Regions from separate parts of the Homo sapiens genome. Here all the other regions are linked to region 2. Evidence: fine-mapped expression QTL. A gene starts in region 2. Each other region holds a variant in brackets. All regions are shown on one strand. Distances are from middle to middle. Region 1 holds the start of MSLN (mesothelin). Region 2 holds the start of FBXL16 (F-box and leucine rich repeat protein 16). Region 3 overlaps RAB40C (RAB40C, member RAS oncogene family).

Region 1 (4,028 bases), 55 kb after region 2:
AGACTCCGTCTCAGAAAAAAAAAAAATCACACAGATATTCTTATTTTTCTTCTTTCTTTCTTTCTTTTTTTTTTCAGTAGAGACGGGGTTTCATCATGTTGGCCAGGATGGTCTTGATCTCTTGACCTCATGATCCACCTCGGCCTCCCAAAGTGCTGGGATTACAGGCGTGAGCCACCACGCCTGGGCTTTTTTTTTTTTTTTTTTTTTTTTGAGATGGAGTCTCGCTCTGTTGCCCAGGCTGGAGTGCAGTGGTGCCATCTCGGCTCACTGTAAGCTCTGCCTCCCGGGTTCACGCCATTCTCCTGCCTCAGCCTCCCGAGTAGCTGGGACTACAGGCGCCCGCCACCACGCCCGGCTAATTTTTTGTATTTTTAGTAGAGACGGGGTTTCACCGTGTTAGCCAAGATGGTCTCGATCTCCTGACCTCATGATCTGCCTGCCTCGGCCTCCAAAAGTGCTGGGATTACAGGCGTGAGTCACTGCGCCCGGCATTTTTTTTTTTTTTTTTTTTTTTTTTGAGACAGGGTCTTGCTCTGTTGCCCAGGCTGGAGTGCAGTGGCGTGATCTCGACTCACTGCAACCCCTACCTCCTGGGTTCAAGTGATTCTTCTGCCTCAGCCTCCTGAGTAACTAGGATTACAGGCATGTGCCACCACGCCCAGTTAATTTTCATATTTTTAGTAGAAACGGGGTTCCTCCATGTTGGCCAGGCTGGTCTCGAACTCCTGACCTCAGGTGATCCGCCCACCTCGGCCTACCAAAGTGCTGGGATGACAGGCGTGCGCCACCACACAGGGCCTCATTTAAAGATTCTTTATAGAGATGAGGTGTCACTACGTTGCCCAGGCTGGTCTTGAACTTCTGGCCTCAACGGACCCTCCCGCATCGGCCTCCCACGGTGCTGGCTGAAGGGTGAGCCCAGGCTGGCCACAGCGCGTTTTCATCATTGTCCGCAGCTTGCAGTCGGCTGGTTCAGAGCTTAGCCGGGCACATGGGCCCCTCTGAGGCTCCTGTTCAGGGCTCAGCCGTGTCTACGGGGCCCTCCGAGCTCTTCCTGGACCCTCCTCGGCTCCTTCAGTTCAGGGCTCAGCTGGGCACGTGGGCGCCTCCTTGGCTCCTCCGGCTCAGGCCTCTCCTCGAGCTCTGGGCCCTGAGTATTCTGGGCTCCTTCCTTGGTTTCCTTTGGCCTTTGGCCGGGAAAGTTGTGGGTGTCCGTGGCAGCCTGGGCCACTTCACAGCCCCGCAGCCAACCTGCGGCTCCTTCAGAGCAAAGCTGTGTGGACACAAAGGGAACGCCACTCGGAGCTGGCCTCTCCCTTTACCTGTGAGTTCCCGCCCAAGCCGGCTGCCTTCTGTCCCCTCCCCAGAGCCCTTGGGTAACTGGTTTGCTACAAGAGTGTCTGGAATTTTTCAGTTGTTCTCTGCGGAAGGGAGTTTTTAAAAGGCCCTTAATCCCTTCTTGACATTTGTAAGTTGACGCTTACACCTGGCAGCCTTGCTGAATTCTGTGTGCGTGAAGGTCCGATTCCACCGCGAGTCACGATAGAAAACCCACTCTGTGGAGAGACCAGAGATGACCGCCGCGCACACCTCCGTTCAGCACACAAACCTTTGCAGGTGTTCATAGCGGAGGCAGATTCCGTACTGGGGATAAGAGCTCACGACATGCTGGGAGGGGTTTCAGGGGCAGGGAGGGGGCTTCTGTGGCCCCAGGTCAGGAGGAGCAGCTCTTCCATCAGCAGCAGGCAGCCAGCCCAGATGCGTAGGGAAGACAGCTCCCACTTCGCCAGGCCAGAGAGCGCCCGGGGGCAGCTCTGTTCCAGTCGACCCTGCGAGAAAGGGGTGTGCGTGTGCCTGGAGCTGGGCCCCGTCCTGCCTCCCTGACCTGTGTGCTCCCACAGCCCTGAGACGGACGGCTCACAGCCTTGCGAGGCCCACACTGCACTGGGGGTCAGGCTTGTGCTCCCGGGAGTCCTGTCTGGGCTGCGTGGCCACCATCCAGAGCCTGCTGACCTGCGACTGGGGGGGCCAGTGCTCCCTGGGTTTCAGCACCTGAGAATCAGAGTGGGATCCCGTGAAACCTGGGCCCAGGCTCCCACCCACGCCCCACACCCACCCAGGGAAGCCATGAAACCTGGGCCCGGGCTCCTACACATGCCCCACACCCACCCAGGGCAGCCGTGAAACCTGGGCCCGGGCTCCCACCCTCGCCCA[C/A]CGAGGGCAGCTTTGCCTTCCTGGGCATCCCTCCTCCCCCAGGCCTGGCCCGCTGCCTGTCCAAGGCTCCTGTGCGGGGTCTCCACCCACACATTCCTGGGGCGTGAGGCGCCACCACTCCCTGCTGCCCCGGGCAAAGCCGTCATTTGTTCCCTTTGACGGCCCGGGAGGCTGCCAGGCTCTCCACCCCCACTTCCCAATTGAGGAAACCGAGGCAGAGGAGGCTCAGGTGTGGCCAATCACCCTGCACATCAGAGTTACCCTGGGCAGGGCCCACTGAGACCTGGGAGGGGCCACTCGGGACCTGGAGGGCTGGGGGCTGCCCGGGCGTTAGGGGTAAAGCTCCCTACCCAACTGCGCAGAAGGCCTCAGAGGCCTGGGGGCTGGGCTTCCCCTTTCACATCGCCCTTTAGAGGCCCACGTGTGGGCATTGGCCCGCGATCTGAAAGGGGCTGTCCTGTTCCTCATGGGCGCTGCCAGCGCCACGCACTCCTCTTTCTGCCTGGCCGGCCACTCCCGTCTGCTGTGACGCGCGGACAGAGAGCTACCGGTGGACCCACGGTGCCTCCCTCCCTGGGATCTGTAAGTAACAACCTTTGAGCTCTTCCTGTTGTGGTGTGGATGGAATCTGCACCTTCCATCTGGAGAACTGGGGCCGCCCCAGGCCGGGCTTCCAGCACCAGAGCGATGGTCAGGCTTCAGCTGGACGCAGATTTCACCCCGCAGGGCACACGCAGACCCATTTGTTTGGAAGCGGCAGTCCTAAGGCAGTGCAGGTGCCTCCACGGCCCCAGCCCAGCTCTCCTGCAGGTGTAAAGGATGCAGATTCCAGGGCCCCCCATGGCCTGCAGAGGCCCCTCAGAGCAGGAAGGGCCGGGCTCTCGGGGAGCCCCCATCCCAGGTGCTGAGGTCCTTGGGTCACATGGAGCTGGGGTGGGGAGTGCCCAGGTCCCCTGTGATCCGATGGCCACGTTTCCCTCCTGGCTTCACGCACCCCAAGGGCTGGGGGTCCCACTCACTGCCCATTTTCTGGCTGTGGGGGGGGTCTGTTTTCTTCCACCTTCTCAAGGTGTTCAGAGCCTCAGGGGCCTCCCCACTTCCTCTGGGGCCTGGGGGAGTAGAGTCTGTCACCCGGAGGCTGTGTGCCTCCCCGCGACATTCCCCAGTGGCCGGGCCGACCAGGCAGGCTCTGCCTGTGGATGGGGCTGCTGAGCATGAGCGTGTGACCCCCATTTCTGAGCTGTGGGTGGACCCACCGGGCCTGGGCCAAGGTTTTCAGGAGGCAGCTCTATTCTACTCCGCCATGGTGGCCTCCCTGAAAGGGGTGAGTGTAGAAGCCAGTTCCCTCTTCTGCGAGCCCCACCCCTACCCCAGGAGGACAATTCTTGTTCAGGGAGGGTCTCCCCACCCACTTCCCCACCCCACAGTGGCCCACAGGCCCCACCCTAGAGAGTACAAGGGGCTCCCCAGGCTGCTCACTGGCCCAGCCCCGCCCCACCTGGACTGCACCTGAAAATGGGCTCAGAGAGGCCAAGTGGCCCAAAAAGACGCTGCTGGGTGGGAAGGGGCGGTGGCCTCTGTGCCCGCAGTGCCCCTCCTGCCTCAAGGGTGTTGTCTGCCTGGCAGAGCCTGGGGTGTTCACAAAGCCCAGGCACCTGCAGCTGAGGGCAGGGGAGAGGGAAGGGAGCCACATCCAGGCGACGGGGCTGCTCGTCCTCCTGTGCGAGAGTGGGGAGACTCAGGCCAGCCCAAGTGGGCGGCGGCCCCGGTTGCTTGATCTAAGCTCTGCTCACACTGCCCTGCCCTTCTGG
Region 2 (4,028 bases):
AGCTGGGGTGGCTGGGGATTGGGGACAGGGTGCAGACTGACACATTCCGTGGCAGCCCCGTGACGCAGGCACACCCGCGTCCCTGCCACTTGGCACGTGGCACAGCGGCAGAGCTCCTCTCCCGCCCCCAGTTTGAGATGCTTCTGGGGGTGCACCAGGGGCTCTGAGGAGGGGCACCATGGCGCAGCAGGCACGTGGCCTCAAGAGAAACCCGTGTTGCTGCCCCAGCAGACTGAGGGCCCATGGTCAAGCCCAGGGCAGCTCAGCCTTGAAAGCTGGACACCCTGGGGAGTGGGTGCTGGGATCCAGGCCTCATCTCAGCCCCTGCTCGGAAGAGCATGAGCACCCTCAGAGGCGAGGCCTGGGCCCCTAGTGCCTACTGCTCCAGGCAGCTGCCACTAACCATCACCCCTCTTTCCTGCCCAGTGAAGGAATGAGGCCTGAACCCACACATTGCAGCCAGTTTGGCCGTTGACTCCTCCTGCACCACTGGTGGGGAAGGCTCAGTCACCTGCTCACCCACAGAGCTCCCTTCACTGCCAATCCAGTCATGGGAGGCACAGCAGTGGGTGCCCACATGCAAGGAGATGGGGTCTTCGGGTGGCTGAACAGTGCCACCTGGGTGGGAGATCCCTAACTCTCAGCAACACAAGGCTTCCTGGGTCCATGTCCAGCTGGTTCAAGGGCCCCGTGCCTCCCACACAGGAAGCTGTTTGTGTCCTTCTCATCAGTGGGAGGTAGGACTCGTCCAGCCGCCCCGGAAGTGGGTGTGAGCTGGAGGCAGTGAGTCTGTCGATGGAGGGGCTGAACTCAAGGGTCTGGCCCCAGATGAGGGGCAGTTGGGGTGGCAGGGGGCAGGGAGTGGGGCAAGTGAGTCCTAGGGTTCCCCCACACAGCGATGTTTGCAGCTGGGCCTTGAATTTCCCTCCCCTCCAGGCGGCTCCAGGTCCAGCCCTGTGTCCACCTCTGGCCAGACCAGCCAGGTTCCACTAGGCCTCTGCCCTGGTCCGGGAGACAGAAAACCCTTCAGTCTCCTGGCCTGACCCAGGCCTATCTGCTCCAAGGCTGCTGTCCAGCACCCCACAGAGGGGGTGGGCTGGGAGACGGCCCTGTGTCCAGGGAGGCCTGAGCTGCCCCTGGCCATTGGGCCCTCGGATGCACGGGTGTGGGGGAAGGGCCTGAAGGAAGAGGCAGGTGAGGTGGCCTCCGCCATCTGCTCCTCCTGCGGAGGGCAGGCTGCCCGAACAGAGCCTGGAGCCTGGGAAGGGCCTGGAGTGGCCGCTGGGCCGTCAGTTCCTGAAGCTGCCACCGCAGCCCTCTCTCCTGAGGTGATGGGTGGGGAACGCTCTCCACCCACCTAATCCCCAGGAGGACACCGGACCCCTCCCGAGCAGGTCTGAAGGTGCCGTTTCCCTTCTGAGGCCCTCCAACCTTGGCCAAGGCCCGGTCCCGCCTCCAGAACCAGGAAGGTGCCAGCCTCCCCCCACCCTCCTCCTCCCGCGGGCAGTAGCTCAGCGCAGGCCCCGGGTCCAGAAGCCGCCCGCCCGGGGAGGGCCGCCCCTCAGGCCGCACATCCACGCGACCCCCATGCAGTTTAACGGTCTCTGGCCTGTCACTTCGGTCCGGGGGCGCCCTCTGAGCCGACCAGGCGCCCGGGGTGGAGGCCGGGGGCCTACAATTCCTCCTTTCGGCGTCCCAGGAGGCACGGACCCCCAGCCCCGGCCGAGTGGCCAGTGGGGAGCGGCCCTCTTCCGGGCCAGGGGCCGGGGCGCGGGGCTGCGGGAAGGCCAGGCAGGGACCGAGGCCCAGCGGCCGCGGGGGAGGTGGGGAAGGGGCTGCCGTTACGTAAGCCCTTCCCGGGCGGCGGCGGCGCGGCCCCCACCCCCACCCCGCCCCCTCCTCATTGTGGCCGCCGCGGAGGTGCGGCCTGGCCCCCTCCCGGCCCCGCAGCCCGGCCGCACGCGCACCTTACCTCGGCCCGGGCTCCTGGCTCATGCCACGCTGTCCGCCGGGCGACCTCCCGTCATGGGGAGCCCGGCATGGGCGTCGGCGCGCGGGGGCCGCCGGGGTGCTGGACTGGCCGGCAGGGCCCGGCCGCGCCCTGCGCCCCGCGTCCCGTCCTGGCCGGGCCCCCTCGGCAGCGCACGGAAAGGAGCTCCCCGGTGGGAGAGGATCGGCCGCCCCAAGCCTCCCACCGGGGAGGCTGAGGCTGTGCCCAGATAAATAAGGCCGCTTTGCAGGGAACCAGGCGGGCGCCTCCTCCTCCCCTCGCCCTCCCCGCGCTCCTCCGTGGCCGCCGCCGGCGCCGCGCGCGCCCCCCGCCCGGCACCAAACGCCGCGCCCTCGCGCGCTCCCGGCGTGGCGAGCCAATCCGGGTTCGCGAGCCCGGGCGGGGGCGCCGAGAATGCCGAGCCCCGCCCCCGCCCCGCCCCGGCCCCCGCGCGCGGCGCGCTCCCGGCACGGCGTCCACGAGCACGCGCCAGGCCCGGCACGCGCCCCCGCCCCGCTCGCCGCGGGCACCCGCACAATAACAAACCCCGGCGCGCGGCGGGCGGGGAGGGCGCGGGAGGCAGAAGGGAGGGCGAGGGGAGGCGGGAGAGCAGGCGCCGGCGGGTGGCCCAGGGGTCCGGGGTCCTATGGGGACCGGGGCGGCACCGCGCGTCCCGGCCCTTGGCCACCACTTGGGGAGGCGAGGAAGGCGAGACCCGGCCCAGAGGAGACAGGGTGGTCAGACCCCCGTCTCTGGACCCTCCCGCCCAGCCCACGGCAAGGACCCTTCACAGCCCTCACACCCCCCGCGCACCTGCTGCGTGCCCGGCCGGAAGCCCCTCATTGGAGACCCTGGCACACCCGCAGAGCGCGAAAACAAGTGACTGCACGGATCAGTTCAGACAGTGACAGTGAAAGCACCCGAGGGCTTGCGGTGGTGACTTCTGGCGGGGGCTTCCTGAGGGTGCCCCACTGGAGCTGAGACCCCCCCACGGCGCGAGGGAGGGATGGCTCGGGAATGGGGGTGCAAAGATCCGAGGAGCCTGGCAAGTTCCCTCGGGAATAAACTGGAGGCTGGAGGCGGCGGCGGCTGCTGCAGCCCGGGGCAGGGGTGGGGCGTGCTAGGTTAGGTGGAGGACTCGGTGGGGACCGCTGGAGACCCCAGACGCCCCAGCAGGCTCAGGGCAGGAGAATGGAGGCCAATGGCGCCCTATCCTGGGGTCTCCTGGGAGCAGGGCCGGGGGAGGGAGCAGGTGTGGGGAGAGCAGAGGGGTTCTTTGCACCGGGAAAGAGCTACAGGGCTGAATGGGGCTCCTGAGAGTATCTCAATAGGAGTGAAACCAGCTGCTGTTCCCAGCGTCCTGATGGGAAGCCTGGCCGAAGGGGCCGGTGTGAGGCCTGGGGTCAGCGGGAAGGAGGGTCAGACTGACGGCACCCTGGCTGGGTCCCGGGGTGGGGTGGTTCTGTGCTTGCTGTGGGGGCGCCACTGGGTCTACCTGGGGTGAGCGCAGCAGCTCTTCTGCGTAAGTCTTGCCCGGTACCTGGATACTGACCAAAGAAGGTGCCCGGAGTGGGGCAGACAGGACGAGCCCCGTGAAGACAGTTGGGGCAACAGGGGAGCGGCGGTCCAACCTATCTGGGTGTCTCCGGTGCATGGTCTGGCAGGCTGGCCCTCTGGCAGCAGCTTCCACCCCAGGCGTGGACTGCTCCCGGTAGGAGGGTTTCACCTCGTGCCTGGGGCTCTCACCACAGCAGGTGCCAGGGCCTCAGGCAGAGAACAAGCTGTGCTTGTGTTGAGTCCCAGCTGGGGCTGGAGCCGGACACACCCCAAGCGCACAGGGCAGGCTGGACACACCCCAAGTGCATAGGGTGGGCTGGACACACCCCAAGTGCATAGGGTGAGCGTGGGAGTCAGGCATTTGGGTCATGCAACCCTGGCGAGGCCCAAGAAGCTAGCCCTGCCTGTGGGGAATCTGAGCAGGGAAGAGTGTGTGGAAGATCATCACAGAAAGGCCAACCGTGCTCCTCCAAAGCGGTGA
Region 3 (4,028 bases), 110 kb before region 2:
ACAGATGACTCGTGTCGAGCACACGTGTTGTGGCCTGCACGATGAGCTAAATTGAACAGTGTTTCAGGAAGGAAGCCACATCGGGGAGCTGAGAGGTGGGCGGGAAGGACACAAGGGAGGGATCTGGGTCCTCGCAGGTACTTTTGCCTCTTGTTCTATTTGAAGATTGCAGCTGAGAAGGCGCGAAGCTGCTGGTCCCTGAAAAGCTGCCGCCTACCCTGGTCTGGAGCCCCTGCGAGCTGGCGTAGAGCAGGAAGGGGTTGCATCACAGCTGAGTCCTCCCCTGCGCAGCACATGGTACGATGCCACCCCACCGAGGGCCGTTCTGGGGCCCAGGGGCCACGTCAGCCAGGGTGTCATCCGCCGGGCGTTTGGAGTAAGCAGGGAAAGGTGTCGGCGTCCAGCATCCTGGTGCGGAGAACGCTGCCGAACCACTGTGAGAAGGCGGGGAGACTGCTTGTCAGGCTGAGCTGACTTCCTGGGCGGTCGGGAGAAGGATGTGCAGACTGTGGAACTGGCGGGTGTCAGGGACCAGAAGTTACGAAGGCGGTGGGAAGAGGAGCAGCTGTGGGAAGAAGGACTGGCTGCCAAGACCATGGGCTGTGGGCATCCTCAGGGCAGGAGCTGGGTGGAAGAGGGGCCTCTTCAGTCCTCTTGGCAGTGAAGGTAAACAGATGTCAGCAGGGTGGACTCGCACTTTGAGCCTAAGGTAGCGAGGAGGCTTCTGAGCCGACCTGGGGATGGCGGCGCACTCTGATACAGGCAGTGCGCGGCTGTCTCGTGCTGAGATCAGGATTTTGAGTAAAGCAGAGATTTCTGGACGTTTGTCCTTCAGAAATTAGCGGAGGGACAAGGGCATTGGCGCTGTGGAGAGGTAGGGACCCATGGGTATGGGGCGGAAGACCAGGGCACGACCAGACACCGCCAGGGTGCTGCACATGTAGGTAGCAGGGGGAGGTGGTCCAGGCAAGATGGGATGGGAGGGGCTCAGGAGCAGCCAGGTTCTAGTGCTGGTGATGAGGTGGGTGGTGGCAGGGGCATGTGGAAGGGTCTTCTGACCATGGCTTACAGAGGGCTTGGTGCTGGGGGGCCTGGAGTTGTGGAAAGGGTGAAGGGAAGAGTTGGTCCCATATTCCCAGATGGCAGAGTGGAAACAGAAGCACTCGGCCCCTGAGCAGCCTTCGCCGTCTTTACAGTGAACACAGTCCTCAAACCAAACTGGGAAGGATTCGAATCCTGGATGGGTGATGTGGTCCTGGCTGTGTAAACTGACCCTGATGAAAGACATGCCCATCCTGTGAGAGGGACAGCCATCTAGCATCTTTTTTTTTTTTTTAATTTTTATTTTTTGAGACAGAGTCTTGCTCCGTTACCCAGGGTGTAGTTCGATGGCACTATCTTGGCTCGCTGCAACCTCTTGAGCCTCATGGGTTCAAGCGATTCTCCTGCCTTGGCCTCCTGAGTAGCTGGGATTACAGGCATGCACCACCACACCTGGCTAATTTTTTACATTTTTAGTAGAGACAGAGGTTTTGCTGTGTTGGCCAGGCTGGTCTTGAACTTCTGACTTCAAGCAATCCGCCCGCCTCAGCTTCCCAAAGTTGGTGGAATTACAGGCATGAGCCACTGTGCCCAGCCCAGCTCAGCATCTTTGGAAAAGAGCAGAGGGCTGGGCACGGTGGCTCACACCTGCAATCTCAGCACCTTGGGAGGCCGAGGTAGGCGGAGTGCTGGAGCCCAGGAGTTTGAGGCCAGCCTGGGCAACACAGTGAGACCCCATCTCTACAAAAAAAAAAAAAAAAAAAAAAAAAAAGGCCGGGTGCAGTGGCTCACACCTGTAATTCCAGCACTTTGGGAGGCCAAGGTGGGTGAATCACGAGGTCAAGAGATTGAGACCATCCTGGCCAACATGATGAAACCCCGTCTCTACTAAAAATACAAAAATTGGCCAGGCATGGTGGCTCACGCTTGTAATCCCAGCACTTTGGGAGGCCAAGGCAGGTGGATCACGAGGTCAGGAGATCAAGACCATCCTGGCTAACATGGTGAAACCCTGTCTCTATAAAAATACAAAAAATTAGCTGGGCATGGTGGCGGGCACCTGTAGTCCCAGCTACTTGGGAGGCTGAGGTACGAGAATGGCGTGAATCCAGGAGGCAGAGCTTGCAGTGAGCCGAGATCACGCCACTGACTCCAGCCTGGGTGACAGAGCGAGACTCCACCTCAAAAAAAAAAAAAAATACAAATACA[A/G]ATACAAAAATTAGCCGGGCGTGGTGGCGCATACCTGTAGCCCCAACTACTTGGGAGGCTGAGGCAGGAGAATTGCTTGAACCTGGGTGGCGGAGGTTGCAGAGAGCTGAGATTGTGCCACTGCACTCCAGCTTGGTGACAGAGCGAGACTCTGTCTCACAAAAAAAAAAAAAAAAAAAGAAAAAAGAAAATTAGCTGGGTGTGGTGGTGCACGTCTGTAGTCCCAATTACTTGGGAGGCTGAGGTGGGAAACTCACTGGAGCCTGGGAGGTGGTGGCTGCAGTGAGTCTGACTGTTGCACTACGTTCCAGCCTGGGTGACAGAGTGAGACCCTGTCTCAAAAAATAAAAAATAAAGAAAAGAGGATGGAAGAAGAGAAGAGCTGAGTCCTGGAAATGGGCAGGTACTTTACAGTTTGTACAGCGGCCGGATGTAAGAACCTCATGTCAACCCTGAGTGAAGGTGTAGGCCGGGCGGTCAAGCACAGCACTCTCCAGCAGCTCCAGCAGCGTGGGTAACCCGGTGGGAGCCTGTGTGCTGCTTTCCCTGCCCGGGGCCGGCGGCTGCTGCTGGGCTTTCGCCTGACTTCCTGGTCAGCAACGTTGTCGGCCACCTGGGCACAGCAGGTACAGCCTGTGTGTCAGACCTAGCTGGGAGGGGCGGTAATAGGGTAGATGACATCAGGATTCAGGACTCTGAACACAAACACAGTGACACTGATCAGGGTTGCCGAGGTGCTGTGTTTCGGTCCAGAAAGTCACTGCTGCAGGGGAGGGGAGTATGGTCACAGCCCAGGCCCCGGCCCCGGCCGAAGCTGCCACTGACAGGAGACCCTTCTCTGCCTGTGCCACCAGCTTTGCTCCGAGGGGTGTCTGTGTCCTCAGGCTCTGCCAAGGCAGTGTCAGGCTGATGCCTGCCCGTGTCGGCCGGCCACAGCCCTAGTGGCTGCCCGCAGAGTCTTGCGCCCACCTGATTCCTGCCTGAGAGGAGCCGCCAGGTCAGCTGATGCCAGCAGGACCCACTTCACCAGGTCAGCAAGGAGGAGGCAGCTTCCCTTGGGGCCACGCCGTGCCTCCTCCGTGTGCGCTGCTGCCATGGCTGCTTCTGTCGATAGGCATGTACGTGAAAATGCACACCCGTGGGTGTTCGCTACTGTCAGCGTGGATTCAGCAAGGTTTTGTTCCCTCGTGGCATCAGTCAGCGTGGATTCAGCAAGGTTTTGTTACCTCGTGGCATTAATCAGCGTGGATTCAGCAAGGTTTTGTTCCCTTGTGGCATCAGTCAGCGTGGATTCGCAAGGTTTTGTTCCCTCGTGGCATCAGTCAGCGTGGATTCGCAAGGTTTTGTTCCCTCGTGGCATCAGTCAGCGTGGATTCGCAAGGTTTTGTTCCCTCGTGGCATCAGTCAGCGTGGATTCGCAAGGTTTTGTTCCCTCGTGGCATCAGTCAGCGTGGATTCGCAAGGTTTTGTTCCCTCGTGGCATCAGTCAGCGTGGATTCGCAAGGTTTTGTTCCCTCGTGGCATCAGTCAGCGTGGATTCGCAAGGTTTTGTTCCCTCGTGGCATCAGTCAGCGTGGATTCGCAAGGTTTTGTTCCCTCGTGGCATCAGTCAGCGTGGATTCGCAAGGTTTTGTTCCCTCGTGGCATCAGTCAGCGTGGATTTGCAAAGTTTTGTTCCCTTGTGGCATCATACTCCTTTCCTGTTTGGTTTGGGACTCCCATGGCCCCCTTGATGTTGGAGCCTCTTCAGGTGGCACCTGCGTCCTGGGCTATGCCCT

The links. PIP is the estimated chance that this variant, and not a neighbour inherited with it, causes the effect. A credible set is the group of variants that fine-mapping cannot tell apart.
Region 1: its variant is the best candidate, but not a certain one, in a credible set for the expression of FBXL16 in lung (TOPMed, PIP 0.74).
Region 3: its variant is the best candidate, but not a certain one, in a credible set for the expression of FBXL16 in whole blood (TOPMed, PIP 0.65).

The regions. Positions count from the first base shown.
Region 1 is chr16:758,376-762,403 of GRCh38, forward strand. MSLN (mesothelin) reads left to right here and starts at 2,359. Exons shown (of 18, transcript NM_005823.6): 1 at 2,359-2,446; 2 at 2,698-2,799. RefSeq lists promoters at 940-2,789, 2,295-2,775, 2,297-2,315 and enhancers at 1,606-2,131, 2,297-2,315. The variant C/A (reference allele first, on the strand shown) is at 2,218.
Region 2 is chr16:703,540-707,567 of GRCh38, forward strand. It overlaps FBXL16 (F-box and leucine rich repeat protein 16), which reads right to left and starts at 2,262. Exons shown (of 6, transcript NM_153350.4): 1 at 1,973-2,262. RefSeq lists enhancers at 2,851-3,467, 3,468-4,028 and a silencer at 3,346-3,562.
Region 3 is chr16:596,152-600,179 of GRCh38, forward strand. The region is part of intron 1 of RAB40C (RAB40C, member RAS oncogene family); the gene reads left to right. Among named protein-coding and RNA genes, the nearest start is that of RAB40C, 8.1 kb to the left of the region's middle. RefSeq lists an enhancer at 3,430-3,931. The variant A/G (reference allele first, on the strand shown) is at 2,251.